4 separate regions of the Homo sapiens genome follow, and all the other regions are linked to region 1. The links come from fine-mapping of genetic effects on gene expression. A gene starts in region 1. Each other region holds a variant in brackets. All regions are shown on one strand. Distances are from middle to middle.

Region 1 (8,350 bases):
CGACAAAAACCACATGATTAACTCAATAGATGCAGAAAAGGCCTTCAACAAAATTCTACAGTCTTTCATTCTAAAAGCTTTCAATGAATTAGTTATTGATGGAACGCGTATCAAAATAATAAGAGCTATTTACGACAAACCCACAGCCTATATCATACTGAATGGCAAAAACTGGAAGCATTCCCTTTGAAAACTGGCACAAGAAAAGGATGCCCTCTCTCACCACTCCTGTTCAATATAGTATTGGAAGTTCTGGCTAGGGCAATCAGGCAAGAGAAAGAAATAAAGGTGGGTATTCAATTAGGAAAAGAGGAAGTCAAATTGTCTCTGTTTGCAGATGGCATGATTGTATATTTACGAAACCCCATTGTCTCAGCCCAAAATTTCCTTAAGCTGATAAGCAACTTCAGGATACAAAGTCAATGTCCAAAAATCAAAAGCATTCCTATACACCAAGAACAGACAAACAGAGAGCCAAATCATGAGTGAATTCTCATTCACAATTACTACAAAGAGAATAAAATACCTAGGAATACAACTTACAAGGGATGTGAAGGACCTCTTCAAGGACAACTACAAACCACTGCTCAGCGAAATAAAAGAGGACGCAAACAAATGGAAGAACCTTCTATGCTCATGGATAGGAAGACTCAATATCGTGAAAATGGCCATACAGCCTAAGGTAATTTATAGATTCAATGCTATCCCCATCAAGCTACCACTGACTTTCCTCACAGAATTGGAAAAAACTACTTTAAAGTTCATATGGAACCAAAAAAGAGCCCACATAGCCAAGACAATCCTAAGCAAAAAGAACAAAGCTGGAGGCATCAGGCTACCAGACTTCAAACTATACTACAAGGCTACAGTAATCAAAACAGCATGGCATTGGTACCAAAACAGAGAGATAGACCAATAGAACAGAACAGAGGCCTCAGAAACAACACCACACATCTACAACCATCTGATCTTTGACAAACCTGACAAAAACAAGAAATGGGGAAAGGATTCCCTATTTAATAAATGGTGCTGGGAAAACTGGCTAGCCATATATAGAAAATTGAAACTGGATTCCTTCCTTACACCTTACACAAAGATTAACTCAAGATGGATTAAAGACTTAAATGTAAGACCTAAAACCATAAAAACCCTAAAAGAATACCTAGACAATGCAATTCAGGACACAGGCACGGGCAAAGACTTCATAACTAAAACACCAAAAGCAATGGCAACAAAGGCCAAAATAGACACATGGGATCTAATTAAACTAAAGAGCTTCTGCACAGCAAAATAAACTATCATCAGAGTGAACAGGCAACCTACAGAATGGGTGAAAATTTTTGCAATCTATCCATCTGACAAAGGGCTAATATCCAGAATCTACAAAGAACTTAAACAAAAGTACAAGAAAAAACAACCCCATCAAAAAGTGGGCAAAATATATGGATAGACGCTTCTCAAAAGAAGACATTTATGCAGCCAGCAGACATATGAAAAAATGCTCATCATCACTGGTTATCAGAGAAATGCAAATCAAAACCACAATGAGATACCATCTCACGCCAGTTAGAATGGCAATCATTAAAAAGTCAGGAAACAACAGATGCTGGAGAAGATGTGGAGAAATAGGAATGCTTTCACACTGTTCTTGGGAGTGTAAATGATTTCAACCATTGTGGAAGACAGTGTGGCGATTCCTCAAGGATCTAGAACTAGAAATACCATTTGACCCAGCAATCCCATTACTGGGTATATACCCAAAGGATTATAAATCATGCTACTATAAAGATACATGCACAGGCATGTTTACTGAGGCACTATTCACAATAGCAAAGACTTAGAACCAACCCAAATGTCCATCAATAATAGACTGGATAAAGAAAATGTGCCATATATACACCATGGAATACTATGCAGCCATAAAAAAGGATGAGTTCATGTCCTTTGCAGGGACATGGATGAAGCTGGAAACCATCATTCTCAGCAAAATATCACAAGGACAGAAGACCAAACACCACATGTTCTCACTCATAAGTGGGAGTTGAACACTGAGAACACATGGACACATGGAGGGGAACATCGCACACAAGGGCCTGTTGCAGGGTGGGGGGCTGGTGGAGGGATAGCTTTAGGAGAAATACCTAATGTAAATGACAAGTTGATGTGTGCAGCCAACCAACATTGCACATGTATACCTATGTAAGAAACTTGCACATTGTGCACACGTACCCTAGAACTTAAAGTATAATAAAAAAAAATTGTTTTGACGATAACAATACCTACTTCATGGTTATTGTGAAGATTAGATGAGTAAAAGAAAAAAGGACCTAGAAGAATGCTGGCACATAGAAAGCACTCAAGGATTGCTGGTCACTGTTATTAGCTATTGAATATTTGAGGGAACAGAAAAAATTTCTCAATAAAGTTTGACATGGAAATTTAGATAATATGCTAGTCCAGCTCTCTGGCATATAACATAATTCTAAGAAGGATCTCTCTTTTTAGTAGCCACTCAATACTTCTTGGACATTACTCAGTGATAATTACTATATTCTCTCTCAGAGTATAACAGCTCCTTTCCTGTATGTGAAAACCCCACTGAAGAAAAGTCTCACTTTAGGGTTTTCAAACTTTGAAAGCTGGTTGCAGCTTTAAACTTACAGTTCTTATACAAGTGCAGCATTAAGAGAGTTGCTGTGCACCTGTTAGTTTCTAGCCAATGAAGTTATATCATTCTCAGAGATGTTATTTCTTTTCTTCTTTTCATTTTTCTGAGACGGAGTTTTGCTCTTTTGCCCAGGCTGGAGTGAAGTGGCGCGATCTTGGCTCATTACAACCTCCGCCCCCTGGGTTCAAACAATTCTCCTGCCTCAGCCTCCCTAGTAGCTGTGATTATAGGCACCCACCACCATGCCCAGCTAATTTTTGTATGTTTAATAGAGACAGGGTTTCGCCATGTTGGCCAGGCTTGCCTCAAACTCCTGACCTAAGGTGATCCACCCGCCTTGGCATCCCAAAGTACTAGGATTACAGGCGTGAGCCACCATGCCTGGCCATGGGATGTCATTTTTGAGTTTGGTTAATGTACAGGCAATTCTGCAATATCTATGTTTAAGACATTAAAAGCATGGTTTCTAATACTAGACTACTTAGGATTGAATCTTGGCTTCACTACTTCCTAGCTGTATGATCAAGGGCAAATTGCTTAATCTCTCTGTGCCTCAGTGTTCTCAGTTGTAAAACGGGGATAATAAACACGGTTACTGTGAGTACCAAATTAGTTAATACATAACGTAAAACACTTTAAACAGTGCCTGACATCTAATAAATGCTATCTAAATATTATAATAGAAATTTATGGTTAAAATAGAAGAATTAACTAAGTTGAAGGACTGTACAATAAGCCATCAATATGTTTCTCAATCCCAGACAGACCCCAGAATGAATTTTTGCAATCTACCTGTCAGTATATATGCACATGTATCTTATTGGAAAACTCAGCAAAATCATAAGATTTAGGTCCTGGCCCTCAACTATTTTCCTTAACAAAATCTACTTTAGGGAGATGCTGTGAAGGTAAAAATTAGCATGTCCCAGGGAAAGCTCATTGCACACTACAAAGGACTATGACAATAACAGGCTTTAGATTTATTTTCTACATTGGCTCTAGCATTTTAGAAGGGTACTTTTACTACTCAAGCCACTTTCCTGCAACTCTCCCCCGAATTTCCCTCCTTCACAGTGGCCAACCTCAAAGCGTTTTCAATGTAAGTGCCTTTCCTGTTAGTGAGACTTCCCTATGAAAATAAATAGTTTAAAGGTTGTTGGAGCCTAAAACTCACTAAGCCTGGAGAGAGATGTGACTGTCATCTGAGTTACACGTGGTTACAACTTCTGTTTCTCAGATTATAGATTAACTTGCTTTCTTATTTTTCTTGTTCTATACAATGGCTAGAGAGAATTAAACGAAGTTAAGGACAAAAACTTCCTGCCTTCTTAATGATCCTTATAGATTAACTTCTGCTTTGTTGCCCCGGTTTGCTTAGACCAGATGACAGAAAATCCTTTATGAAAAATGTTAAATGTACACTTCCCAAAAAGAAACACTGTCTATAATCAAATTGTTGTAACTATTCTCTAACCTTGTATGAGAAAATGCTGTAATCCTGCTAAAAAACCTCTCAGTTTCTGCCTATATAAGTGAAATCTTAAATCTCTACTTCGGAACGCTGACTCCTTCCTTGGAGTCGGTGTTTCTAGGTAGGCTATCCTCAAACTTCGCGCTTTTGATTATTTTACATTGACACCTCCTGTCATCCGCAAGCTCAAAGGCAAGGCTAATAAAAGATGGCAGAGAGCCAATTAGGGACAGAGCCATGTAATCCTCATACCCAGGTGAGTTTAGGGCAGTCTTGCAGAAGCAGAAGCAAATTGTGGGGTCACGAAACCCTCCGGACCCGCCCGCCTCCACCACCACGCGCCCCTATGACCTTCGACCCCTCCCTAGCCCCAGAGCACGCCGGGAGTTGTAGTTCCCAAAGGCCTGTTCGGGCCAGCGCAGGCGCTTGGGGTTTCCCTCCCACCCAACCCCCGCACTTTACCGGATAAGGAAGCGGCCCGTGCTGCCACGCAGTCGCCGGAACGCGGGCGGGGGCTTCTGGGAGTTGTAGTCTGTTGGGGGCGTGCGCAGTCGGTAAGGAGACGTAGCTTTCCGTGGGGTGTACCACTGCAGTTGGTTCCCGGCGGGAGACGCAGGGTCAGTCTGTGACTCTTCCCCTACCACGCTCCCGCAGAGGCTGAGGAGGCGGTTTCGACTTCTCCTCCGGCTTTCTGTCTTCGGCACTGTGTGCTTCTTGCTCCGCGGTTTATTTCTGTACCTAGTCCTCCCTCCCCTCTTCGGTCCATCTCCAAAGCCCGGGCTTGGCGGGGACTCGCCCTCCGGTAAAGGCAGGGCCGCGACCTCCTAAAACCCGGTCGCCGCCCTGCAGGAACCTTCCTCACTCGGCCCCTCACACCGGGTTTCCGCACTGACCCTCCTTCGCCTCGGTCCTCGCTGCGCTCACCTCCTTCCACTCTTTTTTTTTTTTTTCTCCTTTGCAGGGATGGAAGCTTCCTGGCGCCAGGTGGCCGGTGGCCGAGGCCGATCCCGGGGACGGGCCACTGCCGCCCCCTCAGGAAATGGAGTCCATCTCCGCGGCGCCGGAGGAGGGCGAGAGAAGGGGTCGGTGGGCGCAGTTCCTTCTGGCACCAGTCCCGGAGGAGTCGCGACCACGGCGGCTGCAGGGAGCAGGCACAGCCCCGCAGGATCCCAAGCCCTGCAGACTACCGCAGCCAGCGGTGAGAATGGCTCCCGCCCGCGTGCTCACCTGGATGCCTCCTAAGGCAGTTACTAGTCAGGACCGCCTCCGCCCTCGCCTTCTTTCTTTCACTGCTTTTCCCCTCGTTCGGGAGTTTGTTATCGGGCCCACTTCTCCAGCCTTTCGGGTGGCTGCTCTTTTCGGCACTCTAGGTAGATTTCCATCGCACCTCTTTCATCTTAATTTTAGGTGGTATTACCTTTGTTACTTCCCTCCACTCTTGCCTACTTGAATCTCCAGACCATCAGTTGTAAATTGTGGCCCGGTGTTCTGATTTGGTCTATAATGTTGTTTGGTTAACACAGAGTTTTAAATGTGGATTGATTGTCAGCGGTTGTTTGTCGTTTTTAAAAATCTGGTTAACAACCTTGTGGCTTTAGTTATCTTTGTGCATGGCAACAGTCAGCTCGGCTGAGTCACAGAAATCCCATTTAGATTGGACTTGGGCATTCCATCTCACATTCTCTCTCATTTCTGGAGCCAGGTGTCATTTGTCATCTTTACCTTTGCCTTTGTTTCTTGACTTGTCTTATTCCTTGTAAGCACTTGAGCTTTTGATACCTTCCTTGACTGTAGTTCCTATTTACAAATTCCATGTCCTTCTGTGGACATATCTGGTGTTGCCTCCGATATATCAATACTTTTCATCCAAGACCATGTTTTCGTGGAGCCAGGGAGGACTTACACACAATTGTGCATGGGGCCGAGGGAATAATCCCTGAAATCATTTTATTTTTGTGTTTGGAATGCATTTCAGGATACATTTTTTTGGGGGGTGTGGAGCAGAATTGAGTATCTTGAATGATTTTTCTCCTAGGCTAATTTGAAAGGTAGGTGGTATTCTCTTAGCATGCAGTTAATGGCCGTGATGATAAGGTATACAATATGGAGACGTGTGAACAGGTTTGGTAAACTTTTTTTTTTTTTTTTTTTTTTTGAGACAGAGTCTCGCTGGTCGCCCAGGCTGGAGTGCAGTGGCGCAATCTCGGCTCACTGCAAGCTCTGCCTCCTGGGTTCAGGCCGTTCTCCGGCCTCAGCCTCCCGAGTAGCTGGGACTACAGGCGCCTGCCACCACGCCTGGCTAATGTTTTGTTTTTTGTTCTTTGGTTTTTTTTTTTTAGTAGAGACGGGGTTTCACCGTGTTAGCCAGGATGGTCTCCATCTCGTGGGTAGAAGGAAAACAAGCATTCTGTCCGGGCGCGGTGGCTCAAGCCTGTAATCCCAGCACTTTGGGAGGCCGAGGCGGGCAGATCATGAGGTCAGGAGATGGAGACCATCCTGGCTAACAGGGTGAAACCCCGTCTCTACTAAAAATACAAAAAATTAGCCGGGCGGGGTGGCAGGCGCCTGTAGTCCCAGCTACTCGGGAGGCTGAGGAAGGAGAATGGCGTGAGCCCGGGAGGCGGAGCTTGCAGTAGCCGAGATTGCCCCACTGCACTCCAGCCTGGGCGACAGAGCAAGACTCCGTCTCAAAAAAAAAAAAAAAAGAAAGAAAAGAAAAAGAAAACAAGCATTCTCTACCTGGACAGTTGAGATTTGGCTGTAAGAAATAATACGTGAGAAGGTTGTCTTGTCAGCTTCTCTTTACTTTGAGATGATGTTAGGTGAATACATTTATCAGGTTATGAATGTTCTCATTATCTCTGTCCAGTTCAGCCTGTTTTCTTATGTATCTTTTAAGTGCTAATTTCCCGTATATTAATGACATTTATCATCTCTTTTGTGACAAGTTTTGAGTTATATATCTCATAGCCAGTTCTTTTTTCCCAGTACTCAAAGCTTGCTAGGTAAGCATGATACACATTTTCGTCGAGGTTTACTTGAAATACTCAATTTGTTTTGTTAATAACCCCTAACCAAACTGGCTGCAATAAGAAAAGGAAAATGTTTCATGAGGGAACATAATCAAGTACGAATATACCACCCAAGATAAGAGAGCTTATCTTGGTAGTGGCTTATCAGTTTTAAGTATAATGTTAATTTTAAAATAGTCAATCAGTAAATTTAAAATCCTCTCAAGATGGGAATTCATGAACTCAGATCAGTTCTGCAGGTTTGTGGCTCCTTTCTTAAACTATGTTTGCTGTCCGTAAGAGCTTATTAACACTTAGTGCTTGAAGAAAATCCCTGTGGTCCTTGCTCTCAAGAAGTTTGAAGTTTCTTTGGGAGTATGTGCAGTGAAGTAATCTGGTTTTGTTTTGCATGATTAATCAAGTAACAAAATGAGAAGTACAGGTAGTGCTGAATAGTGGAAGAACGAATCCAAAATTAACATTCTTTTTGGAATGAAGTTGGAAGAAACATGTTTTCCATGTTAATACTTTGTGTGGATTAATGTAAAATATGTTTTTTTGTGTGACCACAAGAAGTCCATAATAAAGGCAAAAAGTTCTTGACCTAAGAAGCCGATTGTAAATATAGTGGGTGCATAGTGAGTACTGTTGGTACAAACTCTTTGGTAGGGCTGGACTGGACTGGGCTGGGCCGTCGTGTCCTATCCTACCTGTTGTTCAGAAGACGGTAGTTTGAAATACCTACCTTCCCTGATTCTTTATGTGCTCACTGTGGACATGTTCCCTCACTTCTTAAAAATTACTGTGCACAATGTACTTTAAAACATCTTAATTTTTGTTAGTCCTTATTTTGAAGTTGATCACCAGTATTTTGATAGTTTTATTGTATTTTCATATTTTTTTTCTTGATTTGTTAATCACCGTTATCATAAAAATTTGCTGCATTTTAGCAGGATACTTAGAAAAGTGAAAGTTTTTGTTGTGGTATTCTCTTTAGTTGTGTGTCAAGGAATTTGAAAATACTTTTCTCGTGGATTACAGGAAGGTAGAATGCTCCAAAGGTGACTTTCAAATGTGTGTTGTAAAATGATATATTAGCACATTATGCTTTTCTTTTTGAGAGATTGTTTTGCAGAAATGAAACTTTTTTCTTTTAAACAGAGCTAATGTCTCAGAAAAAATTTGAAGAAATCAAGAAAG
Region 2 (8,350 bases), 83 kb before region 1:
TTCCTTACCTATTTTTAAATTTTAATTGATATCTACTCTTATTTTTATTACCTCCTTCCTTCTACTTGGAGTTTAATTTGCTATCCTTTTTCCAGTTTCTAAGGTGAAAGTTTAGACTTTGATTTTAAACCTTTATTCTCTTTCACTACAAATGTTTAAAGCTAACATTTGCCTCCAAATACTGCTTTAGCTCCATCCCACAAATTTTGATATATTGTGTTTATTAATAATGTTTATTATCATTTAGTTCAAAATATTTTAAAGTTTTCTTTGCAATTTCTTCTTTGACCCATGGGTTATGAAGGAATGTGTTCCTTGATTTCCAGATAACTGCAGCTTTTCCAGATATCCTTCTGTTATTGGTTATCAGTTTAATCCTCTTTTGGACACAGAGCATATTCTGAACAATAATAGTTCTTTGAAATGTGTTGAGATTTGGTTTATGGCCCAGCATATGATCTGTCTTGGTGGATGTTCCAAGTTAAATAGAAAAGAATGTGTATTCTGCAGTTGCTGGGTGTAGTGTTTTAGAAATGTCAATTGGGTTAAGTTGCTTGCTCTAAATGTAGTTTATTGCCAATTTTTAAATTTGTTTAACTTGGTCATTAGATACAAACACAAGTAGGATTATTATGTCTCCTTAATTAATAGACAATTTTATCATTATTAAATGTCCCTGTTTATTCTGGTAATACTTTCTGATTTGGAATTTACTTTGTCTGATATTAATATAGCTAAATCAGCTGTGTTATTAGCATTTTTTTAAACAGAGTCTTGCTCTGTCACCCAGGCTGGAGTGCAGTGGTGCAATTTTGGCTCACTGCAACCTCCACCTCCCAGATTCAAGTGATTCTCTTACCTCAGCCTCCCAAGTAGCTGGGATTACAGGTGCATGCCACCACACCTGGCTAATTTTTGTATGTTTAGTAGAGATGGGGTTTCAACATGTTGGTGAACAGGCTGGTCTCGAACTCCTGACCTCAAGAGATCCACCTGCTTTGGCCTTTCAAAGTGCTGGGATTACAGGCCTGAGCCACCGTGCCCAGCCTATTAACATTTATTATTATGACATGCCTTTTTTTTCCCTTTACATCTAACCTATCTGTGTCTTTTTATTTAAAGCTTATTTCTCATAAATGACATTTAGTTGCATTTTACTTTTGTAACCAATCTGAAAATCTTTGCTTTTAATTAGCCTTTTAGTCTGAGTACATATTTTATAAAAATTGATGTGGTTAGATTCAAGGCTAAAGATTGGTACCTTTGATATTTCCTATAATGTAGATTTGCTGGCAATAAGTTCTCCCAGTTTTTGTTTGTTTGAAAAAGATGTATTTTGCCTTTATTTTCAAAAGCTATTTTCCCTAGGTACAAAAGTATAAATTAACAGTATTTCTTTACTTTCAGCACATTAAAAATACTACTTTGTTATATTCTAAGCTTACATTGTTTCTCATTTACAAGTCTGTGATTATCCTTCCCACCCCCCCGCTTCCCCCACTGTATGTAATGTGCCTACTTTCTCCCTCTGGCTGTTTAATTTTTTTAAAAAATCACTTATTGTTGCTGGGCACGGTGGCTCACACCTGTGTTCACAGCACTTTGGGAGGCTGAGGTGGGCAGATCACCTGAGGTCGGGAGTTCAAGACCAGCCTAACCAATCTGGAGAAGCCCCGTATCTACTAAAAATACAAAATTAGCTGGGGTGGTGGCACATGCCTGTAATCCCACCTACTTGGGAGGCTGAGGCATGAGAATCGCTTGAAACTGGGAGGCGGAGGTTGCGGTGAGCCGAGATCATGCCATTGCACTCCAGCCTGGGCAACAAGAGCGAAACTCTGTCTCAAAAAAAAAAAACACTTATTGTTAGTAATTGGGCTTTTATTTGCTTTGAAGTGATTTTATTTGTTTTTATTCTGCTTGGGGTTCATTGAAATTCTTGAATATGTAATTTTATACTTTTCATCAAATTTGGAAAATTATTGGACATTATTTCTTCAAATATTTGTTTTTACCTCCTTGCTTCTAGGGTACCAATTACACATGTTGATCCAATTAATATGGTTCCATGAGTTACTAAGATTCCAATGTTTTATCTCTTTTTGCTTTATTTTGGCAGCTTCAATTGCTATGTCTTCACATTCACTGATTTTATCATCTACATTTTCTATTCTACTGAACAGACATCTAATAAATTTTTAATTTCAGATATTTTAATTTCTAGAAGTTCTGTTATTTTTTCCTGTGTTTTAAATTTGTTTGTTGATTATATAAATGATTTATTTTGAATTCTTGAGCATATTTATAATACATATTTTAATGTCCTTGTTTGCTAATCCATTATTATTATTATTAGTTTTGAAATGAAATCTCTCTCTGTCACCAGGCTGGAGAGTGCAGGAGCATGATCTTGGCTCACTACAACCTCTGCCTCCTGGGTTCAAGTGATTCTCCTACCTCAGCCTCCTGGGTAGCCGGGACTACAGGCGAGTGCCACCACACCTGGCTAATTTTTGAAGTTTTAGTAGAGACGGGATTTCACCATTTTGGCCAGGCTGGTTTCAAACTCCTGACCTCAGGTGATCCACCTGCCTCGGCCTCCCAAAGTGCTGTGATTACAGGTGTGAGCTACTGTTCCCAGACATATGCCATGATTTCTGTCACTTCTGGGTATGCAGCTATTGACTGATTTTTTTCCTGATTATGGGTCACATTTTCCTGCTTCTTTATGTGTCTAGTAATTTCTGATTGAATGCCAGACATTATTAGTCCATATTGTGAAGTGTTTGGATTTTATTGCCTCCTTAAAAGAGGGGAAGGAATTTGAATTATTTGCAAATTAGTTTGATCCTTTATGAGCTTCTTTTAAGACTTATATGGCAGATTGAAAGTATCATAGCTCTCTTTTATCTGCAGGGAATATGTTCCAAGACCCCCAGGGGGTGCCTGAAACCATGGACAGTACCAAATTTTATATACACTATGTATTTTTGCCTATGATAAAATTCAATTTATAAATTAGGCATGGAAAGAGATTAACACCTGATAATAAAATTGAACAATTATAACAATATACTTTAAGAAAAGTTATGTGAATGTGGTCTCTCTCTCTTTCTCTCAAAACATCTTATACTATATTCACCTTTTTTGTGATGATATGAGATGATACAATGCCTATGTGATGAGACGAAGGAGGTGAATGACTTGGCATTGTGAAATAGCATCAGGCTACTATTGACCTTCTGATAATATGTCAAACTTATGAATTGTTTATTTTTGGAATTTTGCATTAAATATTTTAAGACCATGCTCAACCACAAGTAAATAAAGTTGTTGAAAGTAAAACCACAAATAAGGGGGTACTGTATCCTTTAACCTAGAGTTAGGTTAGCCCTGCTATTGAAGTGTGGCTTTTCATGTAAGCATTTAAATTTTTTATTTATTTATTTATTTTTGAGATGGAGTCTCGCTCTGTTGCCCAACTGGAGTGCAGCAGTGTGATCTCTGCTCACTGCAACTTCCACCTCTGAGGTTCAAGCGATTCTCTTGCCTCAGCCTCCTGAGTAGCTGGGACTGCAGGCATGTGCCACCTTGCCCAGCTAATTTTTTTTGTATTTTTAGTAGAGACGGGTTTTCACCATGTTGGTCAGGCTGGTCTCGAACTCTTGACCTCAAATGATCTGCCCATCTCAGCCTACCAAAGTGCTGGGATTAAAGGCATGAGCCACTGTGCCAAGTCCATGTAAGCATTATTAATGCCTGAG[G/A]TCTTCACTGAATCTCTCCAGTCTACAGGTAGTAACTTGAATATCTCCAAGGTCTGTGTGAGTTTTGGGATTATTTAACTGTTAATACCTTGGAAGTTATTCTTTGTCCAGTCTGTGGAATTTTCATTTATGCATGTCCAGATTAGCATTCCACAAAGACTGGAAAAGACCTCTCTGCAGATTTCTGGTTCTTTCTCTACATTGCTTCCTCTTCTCTAGTACTTTGCTCTGAAAATTCTGGCTACTTCAATCTCCAAGGTCATATTTCTGACTCCTTAGCTAAACAAGACTGCTGGGCTGTGCTTGGTTTATTTTTCTCATGTCACAGATTAAAAATGGTCTTTGGACAGGGTTCAACTCATTTTTCCCCCATTTCTCTAATGCCATACTTCTGTTGTTGTTTTGTGCATTTTGTCCAGTTTGAAGTCAAGCTACTTTTTCATGAGCAAAAACTTAGACTACAGTATACAGATGTTCCTTTACTTATGATGGTTCATCTTATGATTTTTCTACTTTATGGTGGGTGTATTGGGGTATTAAATGCCTTTTCAACTTATGATTATTTCAATTTATGATAGGTTTATTGGGACATAATCACATTTTAAGTCAAGAAGCATCTATTGTTGATTTGTGGGAGCCCACTGCAATGTTTGAATATAATATTTAAAATTCATGATTTATTTGTGAAGCTGTCTCATTTTATAAATTGTGTTGAGACAATGCAAAGTTTGTACAAGTAGGAATTTATAAAAATTACTACAATCTGTAATGACTCAAAGCGTTGTGAAACAGCACTACCACCAAATAATGTAAAATCTTGATTATCACAATATATTTAGTATTTTTCTGAGAAGGCAGAAAAGTAAATTATATATAATACATAATAACTTACATTTATGTATATCTCTATTTTATTACTAATATGAGTACCCCTGACCCATCAACAGACCTAACCAGACATGTACAATAATAATTAAATCCAGTTGTCTTTGACATTTTGCTAGGTTTTAATCATATTAAAATCATTGCTTTATAGATTTTTAATATTTTGGTTATGAAGGTTTGTTTTTCAAGGTGAGGACAAAAACTCATTTTAACAGCTCATTAGTTTGATTTTAAATATTTAGTAATGTAGTACATAGATATCCATTTGTTTTCTTGCCCCAGTTCTGTTAATGTTAGGGGTAGGCCTGTGGAAGAAGTGGCAGCAGCAACAAAAGTTAGGAGGCTTATATCACATAGATAATTTGTCATGTCTGAGAAAGCTAAATTGAAAGCCAGTTTTGGGGAAGGGTAATAAGCAACAATATTTCCACTATGGACTCTGCAAAAGTCTTCAGGTATATTTAAGGCACAACATTATATAGGTTAGCGTGATTTCATATTTACCTAAGTTTTTGTTTTTTTTCAGACAGAATCTCACTCTGTTGCCCAGGCTGGAGTCAAGTGGCACAATCTTGGCTCACTGCAACCTCCACCTCCTGGGTTCAAGTGATTCTCCTGCCTCAGCCTCCTGAGTAGCTGGGGGACTACAGATGTGTGCCAAGCCCAGCTAATTTTTTAAATTTTCGTAGGGATGCAGGTTTCACCATGTTGGCCAGGCTGATCTCAAACTCCTGACCTCAGGTGATCCACTCACCTCGGCCTCCCAAAGTGCTAGGATTACAGGCATGAGTCACTGTGCCCAGCCCCTAAAAGACTTAAAATCTTAAAATTTTCAGGTACAACCATACTCTCTTCCCCAATAATTTTTTTTCCTTACTCTGGATTTCTTTGAGCCCTTTGTATTTGATTATGTTATTTAACCAGAAACTTAATACAATTACAATGAATTATTTAATAATAAGCTCCAGGAACTATCTCACAGGAAAATAATAATAATCTTAATATTTACTGTAATTAAGGACTCAATTTGTGCCAGGCCTGGTGTGAAGAGTTTTATGTCAATCATTTCTATTTACCATACCTTGATTAGAAGAATCTATTCCCATTATGCTAATAAAAAATGGCAACAACAAGGTTCAGGGCAGTTAAATAATTTTCCCAAGGCTACAGTGCTGTCAGAAATTAGCAAACCAGGATGCAAATCTAAATTAGCAAACCAGGATGCAAAATCTAAACCAGGATGCAAATCTCAAGTCCACTAAATTTCCAATATTCCAAGGAGCTATCAACATCAGTTGCAAGTCTCTGAGGCCACCCCAATCATGCTGAGGGCTGGAGGACTTACTCCCTAAGAGGAGGGATCATGGTGGATGGGAGGCAGGACTAGATTGCAGCTCTGACTCAGATAGACAGAGCAGTGTGTGGAGGCTCGTGTCATGAATTTTTGCACCAGAATGACTGTAGGAATAAATCAGGAAACCTGGGAGTACCCAGAGACCTCTCTGAAGGAAGTGGATTGCTCCTTCAGGACCCAGGAAACACTCCAAATACTGTACTGGTATCCCCAGATGAGAGACCCACAGATGGTTTATGTAACAGGACTCTGTGCAGACAACCCCTAGTACCAGCCCAGAGCCTGGTAGACTTGCTGGGTGGCTAGATCCAGAAGAGAGATAATAATCACTACAGCTTGGCTCTCAGGAAGCTACATCCATAGGAAAAGGGTGAGAGTACTACATCAAGGGAACACCCTGTGGGGCAAAAGAATCTGAACAACAGCCTTCAGCCCTAGACCTTTCCTTTGATAGAGCCAACCCAAATGAGAAGGAACCAGAAAACCAACTCTGGTAATATAAAAAAACAATGTTCTTTAACACCCCCCAAAAATCACACTAGCTCACCAGCAATGGATCCAAGCTGAGAAGAACCCCTGATTTACCTGAAAATGAATTCAGGGGGTTAGTTATTAAGCTAATCAGGGAGACACCACAGAAAGATGAAGCCCAATTTAAGGAAATAAAAAAAAATGATACAAGAAGTGAAGGGAGAAATAATGAAATAGATAGCAAGAATAAAAAGCAATCAAAACTTCAGGAAACAATGGACACACTTAGAGCAATGCAAAATGCTCTGGAAAATCTCAGCAACATAATTAAACAAGTAGAAGAAAGAAATTTAGAGCTTGAAGACAGGGTCTTTGCATTAATCCAATCCAACAAAGACAAAAAAGAATAAGAAAATATGAACAAAGCCTCCAACAAGTCTGGCATTATGTTAACCAACCAAATCTAAGAATTCTAAAAGTTTGGAAAACATATTTGGGAGAAGAATCTAGGAAAATTTCCATGGCCTTGCTAGAGACCTAGACATCCAAATACAAGAAGCACAAAGAACACCTAGGAAATTCATCACAAAAAGATCATCACCTAGGCACATTGTCATCAGGTTATCTAAAATTAAGACAAAGGAAAGAATCTTAAGAGCTGTGAGACAAAAGCACCAGGTAGCCTATAAAGGAAAGCCTATCAGATTAATAGCAGATTTCTCAGCAGAAACTGTACAAGCTAGAAGGGATTCTATCTATCTTCAGCCTCCTCAAACAAAACAATTATCAGCCAACAATTGTGTATCCAGTGAAGCCAAGCTTCATATATGAAGGAAAGATACAGTCTTTTTCAGATAAACAAAAGCTGAAAGAATTCACCACTACCAAGTCACCACTACAAGAACTGCTAAAAAGAGCTCTAAATATTGAAACAAATCCTGGGAACACATCAAACAGAACCTCTTTAAAGCATATATCTCACAGAACCTATAAAACAAAAATACAATTTAAAAAACAAAAAACCAAAGTATATGGGCAACAAGTAGTACAATGAATGGAATGGCACCTCACATCTCAATACTAACATTGAATGTAAATGGCCAAAATGCTCCACTTAAAAGATAAAGAATTACAGAATGGATAAGAATTCACCAACCAACTGTCTGTTGCCTTCAGGAGACTCACCTAACACATAAGGACTCACATAAACTTAAGATAAAGGGGTGGAAAAAGACGTTTCATGCAAAATGACACCAAAAGCAGGCAGGATTCTTACATCAGATAAAACAAACTTTAAAGCAACAGCAGTTAAAAAGACAAAGAGGAACATTATATAATGATAAAAGGCCTTGTCCAACAGGAAACTATCACAATCCTAAACATATATGCGCCTAACACTGGAGCTCCCAAATTTATAAAGCAATTACTAATAGACTTAAGAAATGAGATAGACAGCAACACCATAGTAGTGGGAGACTTCAGTACTCCACTGACAGCACTAGACAGGTCATCAAGACAGAAAGTCAACAAAGAAACAATGGATTTAAACTATACCCTGGCACAAATGGACTTAACAGATATATACAGAACATTCCTTCCAACAACTGCAGAATATACATTCTATTTGACAGTGCATGGAACTTTCTCCAAGATAGACAATATGATAGGCCACAAAATGAGCCTCAATAAATTTAAGAAAATTGAAATTATATCAGGCACTCTCAGACCACAGTGAAACAAAACCGGAAATCAACTCCAAAAGAAACCTTCAAAACCATGCAAATCATGGAAATTAAATAACCTGCTCCTGAATGATCACTGGGTCAAAAGTGAAATCAAGATGGAAATTTGAAAATTCTTTGAACTGAACGACAAT
Region 3 (5,000 bases), 33 kb before region 1:
TTGGGAGTTACTGGCATTGAGGTTGGTTCACTTAAGCTAATTCTTGGTATGAACATTGACTGATATGCATTTACTAACCATGTCCATTTTCATAATGTTATGAAGAAATACCCGAGACTGGTTAATTTATAAAGAAAAAGAGGCTTACTGGACTCACAGTTCCACATGGCTGGGGAGGCCTCACAATCATGGCAGAAGGCAAAGGAGGAGCAAAGTCATGTCTTACATGGTGGCAGGCAAGAGAGCATGTGCAGGGGAACTGCCCTTTATAAAACCATCAGATCTTGTGAGACTTATTTACTAGCACGAGAATGGCATGGGCAACACCCACCCCTATGATTCAATTACTTCCCACTGGGTCCCTCCCGTGGCATGTGGGGATTATGGGAGCTATAATTCAAGATGAGATTTGGGTGGGGACACAGCCAAACCATATCACTATGTTTGTTCAAGACACTGGCATTTGGCAAGTCATGCTTCATGGAGGCTCAGGATATACTTTTATGCTTTATGCTTCATAATATGTTTTTGAAATATCTATCATCTACATAGTCTTTAGTAATGAGTAGAAATGGAGAAGAATTTGTTTTTTCAGACCATTTGCCTACCATGGACATTATACAGATGGTGACTACTGTGATTTCACTGCATGTTTTTCATTTCCCAGGGAGCAGTACCTGCCTGGTGCCATTGCACTTTTTAATGTGAACAACAGCAGCAATAAGGACCAGTAAGTATATTTACAATAGAAAACCAAAGTTTTGGTTTTAAAGAAAACCAGTAAAAATGTAGGAATATATCTGAATCTGTTATAGAGGAAACATTTATTAATCAAATGATCTAATACAATGGCAATGATAGTCTTATCATTTTGTTGAAAAGTAGTGTTCATTCATTTATTTGAATACATGTAGAAAAAATCATGTCTATAGTGTTCATGCAGTTGACTTTCTCTGTGAATAGAGTGACTGACAAAAATAAGTGAATTTTTGTCAGGAAATATTACTCCTTTCCAGTTTGAGCCAATGTGTCTTAGGTGAATTTCCTCAGGAGACAGTTTCTGAGATGGAGGCTTGTATGCAGAAGTTTGTTGGGAATGGTCTTGGGAACAATATCTGGAAGGGAGTTGGGGGTCAGTATTGGGCAGAGGGAGAAGTCGAACTTCAGAGAATAGAGCTGATGTACAATGTGATTCTCTGGGGATCCCTGGAGCAGGGATGACCTTTTAGAGTTGTCCCTATTTAGGTAATAGACTTGGGCCTTTGTTCCCATGCACAGTTATTGGAAAAAAGTTGGCCCTAGAAGATGGAGCATAACCATCTGGATGGAGCATGGTGGTTTCCTTCAGCCAAGGCCAGCCAAGGGAGAGGAAAAACTGAGCTGACAGCAACCAACACTCTTGGCAAGTGGGGAATGAGTGCCTGAATTTTGTGCACCACCTGCATAGCCACTGTATGGCCCAACCGTGTGCTGCCCAGATCCATTTTGTTTATATAGAAAATTCACCCCATGTGGGAATACCTACTCCAGGATCCTGGTTATTTTTTCCTGAGAAAGCTTATAAGAGTAAAGTTAATGGGATTAAACTAAGGTCTCTGGCAGTTGCAGGTGGTTTTGAGGCCTCAAATGAAATTCTTCACCCTCTCCGCTTCTACTCATTCTAGGGTCCTCTCACCCTTAGCCAGCACATCTGCTGGTCTAGATGACTTAGCTGGTGGAACAGTACAGACACTCATCCCTGAAGAACTTGAGCCCTGGGTCACCATGCCCTTCTTGAGTCATGGCTACAGTACTTGCCCATTTACCACCAAAACTGGGCTGGAAAATACCAAAAGACCACCTAGGTGCAAATACATCTCCCCTCCCTGCATTGTATACAGCACTGCCTACTTCTGATGATCACGGTCAATAACTTTTGCCAGTGTGGTGACTCTCTTCCTTGCCTGTTGGGCATGA[G/A]GGGACCAAAGTGGCTGGGGAGTAGCCGTAGCTTAATGTTTAATGGAACTCTGGCATTCCCTGGCAGATGCATCACCCCTCTGGAAGCCAGGACCTCTAGATCCATAGATCCTTAAGTTGCAAGAATGGGAAACATACCTTTCCTACATTTGTCACCCCTACTTAGACCCCATAGTTCCCAGACCAATGCATTCTATACAGGCATAGAGAACCATACAATGATCATTGTTTTAGCATATATACAGTATCCTAGAGGATGGCACCTTTTCTTCCTAGAGTATAAACTCTATGATAGCACTTCAGCTGTGGTTTCAAAAAGTCCCTCCTTAACTATCATGTCAGTAGCTGACAAAGGTGTGCAGCTTATGATAGGACCACTGGATCCCAAACTCAGGTTCCAATGCCACATTTTTTTTTTTTTGCCTTAAAGTGGGTCCTTGGTCCAAAGTGATGTTAAGCAATATTTCATATATAGTGATCATGCTTCATATGCCCCTAAATAATGGCACTGGTCAAAGCCCTGTGGCAAAAAAGCAAATGAATAGTCATAATATATGTCAGTTCTTATCAATATATTTGATGCCCCTTCCATGGTGTCAGGAGTCCAATTTAGTTAACTTGCCATCAAGTGACTGATTACTTTCCTCAGGAGAAAGCACTGTTTTGGAGTCATAGCATTGGTCTCTGTAACAGGCATGTTCACTACGAGCAAAAAACAGACAAATAAAAACAAAGATTTTCAAACTTTGTGCTCACACTCATAATATGTCCATTCAGTCTGCCTCTTCTGAAATATTTTCCCTGATCTTTCCATCGTTTTCCATCCAGGTCCCTGACCAACCAGTCAAGGCATTTGTGACTGCCCACGAGTCCTTTTACACATGTATATTCTTAATTTGGGCTATTTCTTTTTCCCTTTTTTTTTCTTTTCTTTTTTGAGACAGGTACTCACTCAGTTGCCTGTGCTGGAGCGCAGTGGTGCAATCTTGGCTCACTGCAGCCTCCATCTCCCGGGATCAAATGATCCTCCTGCCTCAGCCTCCCAAGTAGCTGGGATTACAGGCGTGAGCCACCACGCCTGGCTAATTTTTGTATTTTTAGTGGGGTTTCGCCATGTTGGCCAGGCTGGTCTCTAACTCCTTGGCCTCACGTGATCCTCCCACCTCAGCGTCCTAAAGTGCTGGGATTACAGGCTTGAGCCATCGGACCCAGTCTGGGCTATTTCTTTTTCCATACAAACTAGATGACTGTATACTGCTTGAAGCTGTGCCATTGGGGAAATTAACCTCACACTTTCAAGACCACCTCTAAGTGAGGCTGTGGTGCAGACACAGACCATTTTGGCTTGCATCCACATTCTAAACTGACCCATCTATGCAACATGCTGTATCAGCTCCTTCTAAAGAACCCCACATATGACCACAGGTGGGGGCTGATAAATAGGTGCTGAGTGGAAAATGACATAGTGGAAAATAAATGGAAATTTCCAACGTGGAAATGACATAAAGAAGGGTACTGAAGGCCGGGCATGGTGGCTCACACCTGTAATCCCAGCACTTTGGGAGGCCGAGGCAGGCAGACCACCTAAGGTCAGGAATCGAGACCAGCCTGGCCAACCTACATGGTGAAACCTCATTTCTACTAAAAATACAAAAATTAACCAGGTGTGGTGGTGCACGCCTTTAGTCCCAGCTACTTGGGAGGCTGAGGCAGGGGAATCACTTGAACTGGGAGGCAGAGGTTGCAGTGAGCCGAGATTGTGCCACCGCACTCCTGCCTGGGTGACAGAGCAAGACTCCTCAAAAAAAGAAAGAAAGAAAGAAAGAAAGAAAGAAAAAGACGAAGGGTACTGAGCCACCTGCCTGGGCAGCTTACTTATTTGCTCTGATTCATGCTCAATCCCAGATATCTTACTTCATCATATGACGGATTGATACATTATGAATTGTTGTTTCTGACAGAATCCATCTCATAATGGGCATTCTTTTTATGTCCCATGGTTAGGTAATCCTATTTCAGGGCCTGACTAACAGAATGCCATTGATGCAGATATAGTGGACTAATGTGGTGCTCTGAGAAATGTCCACGTGATCCAGGTCCCTCAAGGCTGTCATGACAGTAGGAAAGAAAGTTAATATAGCCTTGGAAAAGAGTGTAGGTGTGTACAGTTTGTTATCCCCTGTGAGTATGAGCTATGTCTGATCCTCTTTCCTGATAGTAATGAAAAATGACATTCACAATGACTGACCCAGAACCTTAGGTATGCAGTGTATATCAAGTGAATGCATTGTTTTCCACATATGACACAGCAGCTGCAATTGGGGCTACTACTTGGTTGATTTTGCAATTGTCTATTGCTATCCATTAGGATCCATTTGGTTTTTGCAGGGGTCTGATGATGAATTATGTGGGGAAATGAAGAGCGATCACCACCCCTGCATGCATTAGGTCTTTAAGGATGGCATTTCTTTTTCTCCCCAGGATGCAATGTTGCTTTTGGCCAGAAGGTGGGAAGCAGCTTAAGGGCTTCTCCTCGGTCTTACACCTCTTTCCTCACAAGCCAAGGAACTAGTGGGGTAGGGGTGGGAGTTGTGCCGATGACCAACTATATACATTTCCCTTTTGTATTCAGGAATTATGTACATTACACTTATACATTTAGGAACTGGAGAAATGATCACAGAGTGGGTCACTGTGTTATTTTCCACATAGGACATGTCAGCTGCAATTGGGGCTACTACTTGGTTGATTTTGCAGTAGTCTCTCTGCCATCCACTAGGATCTATTTGGTTTTTGTGGGAGTCAGATGATAAATTACATGGGGAAATTAAGAGAGACCACCACTCCTCCATGCATGATTTTATACAATTATATACATTTCTCTTTTATATTCAGGAACTTATATACATTCTACTTTTATATTCAAGAATTACATACATTTCACTTTTACATTTAGGAACTGGAGAAATGATCACATAGTAGTGGGTCTGTGGACCCAGTGGGAAACACCATAAGTCATATCTCATCCAGGAATCTATTATTAC
Region 4 (8,350 bases), 170 kb after region 1:
GAATAGCTAAAATCACTGTCATAGGACTGAATGTAAAAATTTAAGTTGCTGACTATAGTAAGTATAAATTAAGATAATATCACAACACAGGGGCTAACTTTAATTTCACTATTATTTCAAAACCTATTCTGTAAAGACACTAATTTTCACCTTTCTCTTTTTTTTTTTTTAGTCATGGACTCCTGCCCTGTAGGTCCTTCTGTGAGGCTGCAAAAGAAGGCTGTGAATCAGTCCTGGGGATGGTGAATTACTCCTGGCCGGATTTCCTCAGATGCTCCCAGTTTAGAAACCAAACTGAAAGCAGCAATGTCAGCAGAATTTGCTTCTCACCTCAGCAGGAAAACGGAAAGCAATGTAGGTGTCTGTGTTTCATTTCATTTTTAGAAGATTTTATTTGAGTATGCCATTTATACAGGAATGGATATAAATAATAAGTGTACAGTCTGATAAATTTTAACCAAGTGACAAGATCCATGTAACCAGAACCCAGATCAAGGAATAGAATATTAACAACATCCCCAGAAATGCCTTCAAGCCCGCTGCCTGTCATATCTCACCCTTCCAAAAGAAACCTCTATCCTTACTTCTATCACCTTAGTTTTGCTTACTTCTGAACTTCATATAAATGGAATCATACAATATGTAACTTTTTAAAACCTGTCTTCTTTTGCTCAGCATTATGTTCAAGAAATTAATTACATCTTCATATTGTGGTTCATTCATTCTCATTGTTATACAGCATTCTAATATATGATTGAACCAAAATATATTTTTCCATTTCACTGTTGATGGACATTTGCATTGTATCCAATTTTCAGCTATTACAGTGATGCTATTACTATTCTTGTGCATGTCTTTTTTTTTTTTTCTGGAGACAGAGACTTGCTCTGCCACCCAGGCTGGAGTGCAGTGGCATGATCTCAGCTCACTGCAACCTCTGCCTTTCGGGTTCGAGCAATTCTCCTGCCTCAGCCTCCCGAGTAGCTGGGATTATAGGTGCACGCCATCATGCCTGGCTAACTTTTGTATTTTTAGTAGAGACATGGTTTCGCCATGTTGGCCAGGCTGGTCTTGAACTCCTTATGTCGTGATCCACCCACCTTGGCCTCCCAAAGTGTTTGGATTACAGACATGAGTCACCGTTCCCAGCCTCTTGTGCCTGTCTTTAATTGAATATGGTTATATTTATTCAACAAAAAAGTTTTCTAAAGTGGTTGTACCAATTTATGCTCTTACCAGCTCCTTATAAAAGTTGTAGTTGCTCCAAATCCTTCCCAATCTTTAGCATTGTCAGTCTTTTTCATTTTAACAATTTTGATGGGAGTATTGTGAAATGTCTGTCCAAATATTTTGCCTATTTTTTGATGGTCTGTCTTTTTGTCTTCAGTTTATAGTTTTGTATGAATTCTGGATACAAGTCATCTGTTGGATATATGTATTGCAAAGATCTCATGCCCTATGGCTTGCCTTTCTACTCTTATTAGCATCTATGATGGAATAGAAGGTCTTAATTTTAATGGGTCCATAATATCAATCTTTTCTTTTGTGTTTTTTTTTTCTGTGTCTTAAGAAATCTTTGCTCACCCCCAAACATAGAAGTTTTTCTCCTATGTTTCTTCTAGAATCTTTATTGTTTTGACATTCAGTTTTACATCTACTATAATTCTGGAATTATTTTTTGTGCATGGTGAAAGGTAAAAGATAGGAATTAATTTTTTTCTATGTGTATATTCAATTGACCCACCACCATTTAATTATTTAGAAGACAATTTTTCCCTCTGCACTGTAATATCACTGCTGCTATCAATCAAGTGAATGATTACATGTATATCTATTTTTGAACCCTCTAATTGACAGAATAGAATTAAGACAATACCACACTATCTGGATTACTATAGTTTTATAGCATCTTTATATTGAATATTATATGTCCTCTATCTTTGTTCTTCTTAAAGATTGACTATTTTTGGCCCTTTGCGTTTAATGTAAATTTTAAAATCACTATGTAATTTCCACAAATGCTGTTTTTGTTTTTGTTTTGTTTTTAAATTGGGACTGCATTAAATATATAGATCAAATTCAGGAAAATTTCTTTACAACAGTCAGTCTTCCAACCATAACAATTATATACTATGGTAATATTTAAGTAGGTATTTTCAATGAGGCATTTTAAAATTTCTCTCAATTATGTGTTATAGGTTTAACCATAGAGATCTTGCACATCTTTAGATTTATTTGTGGTATCTGGTATTTTTGATGTTATTGTAAATTATATATTTTTAAAACATTTCCTTTATTTTCTGTTTTTATGTATCCAAGAAATTTGATAAATCACTCAACAATTTTTATAATTTGTCTGTAAATTCATTTGAATTTTCTAAGTACACAATCATGTCATCTAAAATAATGACAATTTATTTCCTCCTTTTCAGTCATTCTGCTTTCTGTTTCTTCTATGTCAGGAAGAAGGTTTTCAATATTTCACCTTTAATTCTGATGTTTGGTGAAGGGTTTTTAGGATACTCTTGGTCAGATTAAGGAAGCTCTTTCTATTTGTAGTTTGCTAAGACTTTTTAAAAAATCCTGAATGGGTTTTGAATTTTATTATTTTTTTCTATATCTATTAAGATGATGTATTATTTTTTCATATTATGCTAGTTACCTTTTAGAAATGCCAGCTTTACTGAGATCATTCACATACTATAAAATTCATCTCTTTAAAGTATATTATTAAGTGGTTTAGTATACACACAGAATTGTACAACCATCATAATCATCTATAATAATTTCAGAATGTTTTTATCACCCTAGAAAGAAACCTACACGCATTAGCAGTAAATTGCTATCCCTCTCCTCAGCCCCTGGTAAACACTAATTAACTTTCTGTTTCTATAAACATGACTATTTTGGACATTTAATATGAATTAAATCATACAGTATGGGACTCTTGTGACTGACTTCTTTCACATAGCAAAATATTTTCAGGGTTCATATATGCTGTAGCATGTATTATTAGTACTTCATTCATTTTTATTGTCAATTGATACTCCATTGTAGGAATATACCACATTAAAAATCCATACATTAATTGAGGAATATTTGGACTGTTTTCACTTTTGGACTGTTATGAATAATGCTGTCTGTATAATATTTGCGTATAAGATTTTGTGTTTTTGTGTGGACATACTGTTTTAATTCTCTCAGCTATATACCTAGGAGTAGAATTGCTGTGACTAGTATTAACTCTATGTTTAACATTTTGAGGAAATGCCATTCCTACAAACAATGT[A/G]TGAGGGCTCCAGTGTTTCCACATTTTCACCACACTTGTCTCTTTTGTTTATAGCTGTCCTAGTTGATGTGAAGTGGTATCCCATTGTGGTTTTGATTTGCAGTTTGCTAATGACTAATTATGTTGAGCAACATGTCATGTGCTTGTTAGTGTTAGCCATTTGTATGCCTTATATTGAGAAATATCTATTCAAATACTTTGCCCATTTTAAAATTAGGTTGCCTCTTTAAATTGTTGAATTGTCAGGTTCTTTATATATTCTGGATGCAAGTGTGCCTTTTAAGCTATATAATCTTCAAATATCTTCCTACATTCTTCGGGGGCTGTTTTCATTTTAACAACAGTTTTTAACTTTGAGGAAGTCCAGTTTATCTGTCTTTTCTTTTGTTGTGTATGCTTCTAGTGTATGTATTTTAAAAATTGGCTAATACAAGGTGACTAATTATTTATTCCTTTGTTTTCTTTTAAGATTTTAATAGATTTAGCTCTTATATTTAAGTCATTGATCCATTTTAAATTAACTTTTCTGTATGTTGTGAAGTAGGAGTCCAACTTCTTTCATTTGCGTATGGAAATTCAGTTGTCCTAGTATGTATTGTTGAAGAGCTATTCTTTCCCACTGAATGGACTTGGAGCCCCTTGTTAAAAAACAATTGGCCATAGATGTATGGGTTTATTTCTGGACTTTCAATTATTTTTTATTGATCTATCTATCTTTCTTGATTACCACAGTTTGCAATACATTTTGAAATTATGAAGTGTGCATACTTTAACTTTTTAAGGATTACTTTAGCTATCCTGGGTCCCTTGCCTTTCTGTATAAATTTTAGGATTAACTTGTCAATTTCTGAAAAAAATTCAGCTATAATTTTGATAAAGATTACATATGTAAATATACCATTCAATCTTTGCTAAAAGAGCTGGAATGGCTATACTAATATTTGATCAAATAGATTTTAAAACAAAATTGTTATCAGAAAAGAGGAGGGATTTTTTAATGATAAAGGGTCAATTCGTCAGGAAAACATAACACAGAGCCAGAAATACTTAAATCTGACAGAACTGAAGGAAAAATAGACAATTCAACCATAATATTCCACTGTCAATAATGAGTAGAACTAGGTAGAAGATTAAAAGGGAAATACAAGACTTACAAAGCACGATAAACCAATGAGATCTAATAGACATCTGTAGTACACTCCACCCAGCAATAGAAAATATGTGTAAACACATAGGCACCTAAAAATTTCCATTTTTGAGCTTACAACCTATTTGTGTTTCTGAATATAAAGTATGCCTTTTACACACAGTATATAATTGAATCTCATATTTTTATCTATGAGACAAATCTCTGCCTTTTGATTGTAGTGTTTAATTCATTTACACTTAATGTAATTATAAGTATTTGCATATGCTGTTTTGAAATTTGTTTTCTCTATGACTTTTGTATTTCTTGATCCTTCATTACTGACTTTTTTTGTGTTAGATATATTGGGGTGTGCCATTTTAAATTTCTTGTTGCTTGGCTATTTTTTTTAGTTATTCTTATTGGTTGTGCTGGAACTTAAAATTAACGTCTTAAGTTATAACAGTCTAGTTCAGATGAATCCTAACCGAATTTCAACAATATCTACACTTTGCTTCTGTATAGCTTTGTTTCTTTTTCCTTCTTTGTACCATTATGTATACAAATTACATCTTTATATAATATAATCTCAACATAGGTTTATTGATTATGATTATAAATTATTTATGCAGTTGTTTTTAAGAATCAGATAGGATAATAAAAGATTTATAGAAAAAATACATTTCTTTTATCTTACTTTTACCTATTTAATTACCTCTACCAATACCTTTTATTTCTTCATATGGATTCAAGTTGCTGTATACTGTCCTTTTATTTTATCCCAAAGGACTTCCTTTAGTACTTCTTACAGGGTGGTTCTGTTAATAGCAAATTCTCTCCACTTTTGTTTATCTGGGAATATCATAATTTGTCTTTCATTTTGAAAGGATATTTTGCTGTACATAGAATTTCTGTTTGACAGTCTTTTATTTTCAGCACTTTGAATATGTTATCCCACTTCCTTTTGGACTCCTCAGTTTGGATGAGAAGTCAGATGTTAACCTTTCTGAAGCTCCATTTTATCTGATGAGTTGCTTATCTCCCAGTGTTTTCAAAATTTTCTGTGTCTGATTTTTGATAGATTAATTACAATGTGTCTAAGTGTAGATCCTTTAGAGTTTATTTGAATTTTTGTACTTCTTTGTTATGCAGATGTATGTTTTTCTCCAAATTTGAGAAGTTTTCAGCTATTATATCTTCAAACATTCTTTCTGACTCATTCTTTTATCTCTTTCTGGGACTCCCATTATGAGTATGTTGGTACATCCTCCAAGTCATTAAGGACCTTTTAATTTTTCTTCTTTTTTTTCTTTCTGTTCCTTAGACTAGATAATCTCAGCTTACTTATCTTAAAGTTTGCGGATTTTCTCTTCTGCCTGATCAAGTCTGCTGTTAAGTCTTTCTAGTAAATTTTTAATTTCAGTTATTATATATTTTACTGCATAATTTCTAATATTTTAAAATAATCTATATATCTTTATTAATATTTTGTATTTTTTGAGCCATTGCTCTTATACTTCCCTTTAGTTCTCTAGAAATGTGTTCCTTAGTTCTTTGAATGAGTTAAAATAACTGATTTAAAAGTCTGTCCAGTAAATTCAATGTCTGAGCTTCCTCAGGAACAGTTTTTGTTGACTGTTTTTTCCCCCTCTATATGGGCATATGTTCCAGTCTCTTTGGACATCTTGTAATTTTTTGTTGAAAGTTGGACATTTAAAATAATATAATGTTCAACTCTGCAAGTTGAATTCTTCCCCCCAACATTAGTTGCTGTTTCTGTTTCTTGTTGCTTTAATTATTGTTATTTATTTGTTCAGTGAGTTCCCTGAAACAAATTATGTTAAGTTTGTTCTTTGTCATGTCTGGCCACTGAAGTTTTTGCCCAGATAGCAGCCTAGTGGTCAACTAATGGTTGGACAGAATTTCCTTAAATGCCTTTAACAGGTATATATCCTAGTCTTTGCCAAGGGATTCTGTGCATGTTAGGGTGCATAGTCAGTACTGTAGCAGAGTCGACACTATAGCAGAGTCAATGCTATAGCAGTCAATACTATAGCAGAGTTTACAGCTCTGCCTTATCCTTAAATTTCTGCTTGTACAGGGTCTCAATGTCTGCCACAGGTGAGATATTTGGGCCTTTCTGGGTCCTTCTTAGGTATATGCATAGTCCTGCACATTCATGGGATCTTCTAGATTCTCAGCAATGTATTAGAGCTTTTCAAATTTTCCTACAGGAATTCCCCACATTTTTCTTTTAATTTTTCTGGTTAGCTTCTTGTTTGCCCCAAGTGATATCCCCACCTCAGACAGTTACAGTGTTAATCGATTATTAATTTTTTTTTTTAGAAACACCCCGGGGAAAAGGCTTTTGCACTGAGTAAGCTCTTATTCAGGTCAAATAATCACATTTGCTCTGAGTTTCCAGGGAGCTAACAGACAAGAAAAATAATGACAATTCTTTGGTAATGGGGCATTGTGGAGAGCTCCAAGCATGTTTTGCCCCTTCTAGTGGCTGCTTGGCTGCTAGTTTTCACAGCTGATGTAGTTGTGAGGTTATCTAGATCAATAACCATATCTTATCACCTGCTTTCTTAGACCATGTCTGACACTAGGTGCTAAAAGTTGAGTTTTCTGCAAATAGTAACTGAGATGGAGTTTGGTGTACAGAGTATTTATTAAGCTTCAGCCTTTGTGTTAAGGGAGGGAGAGAAAGCAGAATTGGGCAGAAGGAGTTGAAATATGATCCAGGCCCACCAAAGCCTCAGCTAAATCCTTGGGGAGTTCTGGAATGTATTAAGCCTACAAGAGTTATCTCATGTTGATCCAAAATAGTTGAGTCTATGTGTCTCCACCTCAATCAGTCATTGGATGTGGTCCTTCCTGGGAAGAGTGTGCCACTGAGTGAGGCAGATCTCTTCAGTGTTCCACAGCTGAGGCAAAACCCGAAGGATCTGACAGCTAAAGGCAGTGGGCCAGCAAATGTAGCAATAGATTCTTGAAGGGTAGACATATATGGCCAGATCGTATATGTGATATGGGCCAGACACATATATGATCACACGTATGTGCCACATATATGATCACTAGGCACATATGGGGCCAGATAGCCTTAATTTAATCAGAGACTAAGCTGATTTTGCCTCATTGTTATAAGGCTCCGTCTACCTCTGGTTTTTCTCCATTCTGAGAGTGTGGTTCTCCAGTAGTCTCAACTGAGAAACTGGTAGGCTTACTATATTCCCTTCCTCCTTGAGTAGTTCCAAATTTTATTTTATTTTCTGCTCAGAGCAGTATAATTTCTGTAATTTCCATTCTACTTTTCTGAAGTTTTCTGCTTAGTTCTTTAGGCTCCTGCCCTCTGTGGCAAATGCCTTGCAAGGCAACCCTCCCAAGTGATAGATCTGCTTCTCTATGTCTCCCCTTTCACTGCTCACCTGGCCCCTTAGTATCTGGCTGCTTCAGCAACACCAAACTCTAATTTTTGTCTCTTCGCCTTTGTGGAATTGCCAAAAGTTCTGCTGGCTTATCTTGTCTTTGCAGTGGTCACATGTGTAGCACCATGCCAAGAACTGGCAAGTTCCATGAAGGACAAGGCATACACAGATTGTAGACTCTTAGGGCATGTTCTCACTTAGCTAAATGATAAGAATACATAGACACATAGAGGGGAACGACTGATACTGGGGTCTACCAGAAGGTGGAGGGTAGGAGGAGAAAAAGGATCAGGAAAAATAATTAATGGGTACTAGGCTTAATAAGTGAGTGATCTGTACAACAAACCCCCATGACACAAGTTTACCTATATAACAAACTTGCATATGTACTTTTGAACTTAAAATAAAACTTTAAAAAAGAATGTAGACTCTTTGTTCTATAGTTATCTTCTCTCTGGGACCTTGGCCACTCACATCTTAATTATCTCATCAGCTCTCAGA

The links.
Region 2: its variant is fine-mapped to the expression of NFXL1 in whole blood (INTERVAL, PIP above 0.99).
Region 3: its variant is fine-mapped to the expression of NFXL1 in whole blood (INTERVAL, PIP above 0.99).
Region 4: its variant is fine-mapped to the expression of NFXL1 in whole blood (TOPMed, PIP above 0.99).

What each region holds. Positions count from the first base shown.
Region 1 is chr4:47,910,956-47,919,305 of GRCh38, reverse strand. It overlaps NFXL1 (nuclear transcription factor, X-box binding like 1), which reads left to right and starts at 4,723. Exons shown (of 23, transcript NM_001278624.2): 1 at 4,723-4,941; 2 at 5,101-5,337; 3 at 8,312-8,350. The coding sequence starts at 5,103. It overlaps LOC101927157 (a long non-coding RNA gene), which reads right to left and starts at 5,079. Exons shown (of 3, transcript NR_125879.1): 1 at 4,602-5,079. RefSeq lists enhancers at 4,743-4,972, 4,483-5,168, 5,169-5,855.
Region 2 is chr4:47,993,882-48,002,231 of GRCh38, reverse strand. All of the region lies in intron 2 of CNGA1 (cyclic nucleotide gated channel subunit alpha 1), which reads left to right. Among named protein-coding and RNA genes, the nearest start is that of CNGA1, 19 kb to the left of the region's middle. The variant G/A (reference allele first, on the strand shown) is at 3,765.
Region 3 is chr4:47,945,563-47,950,562 of GRCh38, reverse strand. It overlaps CNGA1 (cyclic nucleotide gated channel subunit alpha 1), which reads left to right. Exons shown (of 11, transcript NM_001379270.1): 6 at 668-730. All of the region lies in intron 1 of LOC101927157 (a long non-coding RNA gene), which reads right to left. Among named protein-coding and RNA genes, the nearest start is that of NFXL1, 33 kb to the right of the region's middle. The variant G/A (reference allele first, on the strand shown) is at 1,957.
Region 4 is chr4:47,736,406-47,744,755 of GRCh38, reverse strand. It overlaps CORIN (corin, serine peptidase), which reads left to right. Exons shown (of 22, transcript NM_006587.4): 5 at 173-354. Among named protein-coding and RNA genes, the nearest start is that of MIR8053, 88 kb to the right of the region's middle. The variant A/G (reference allele first, on the strand shown) is at 3,290.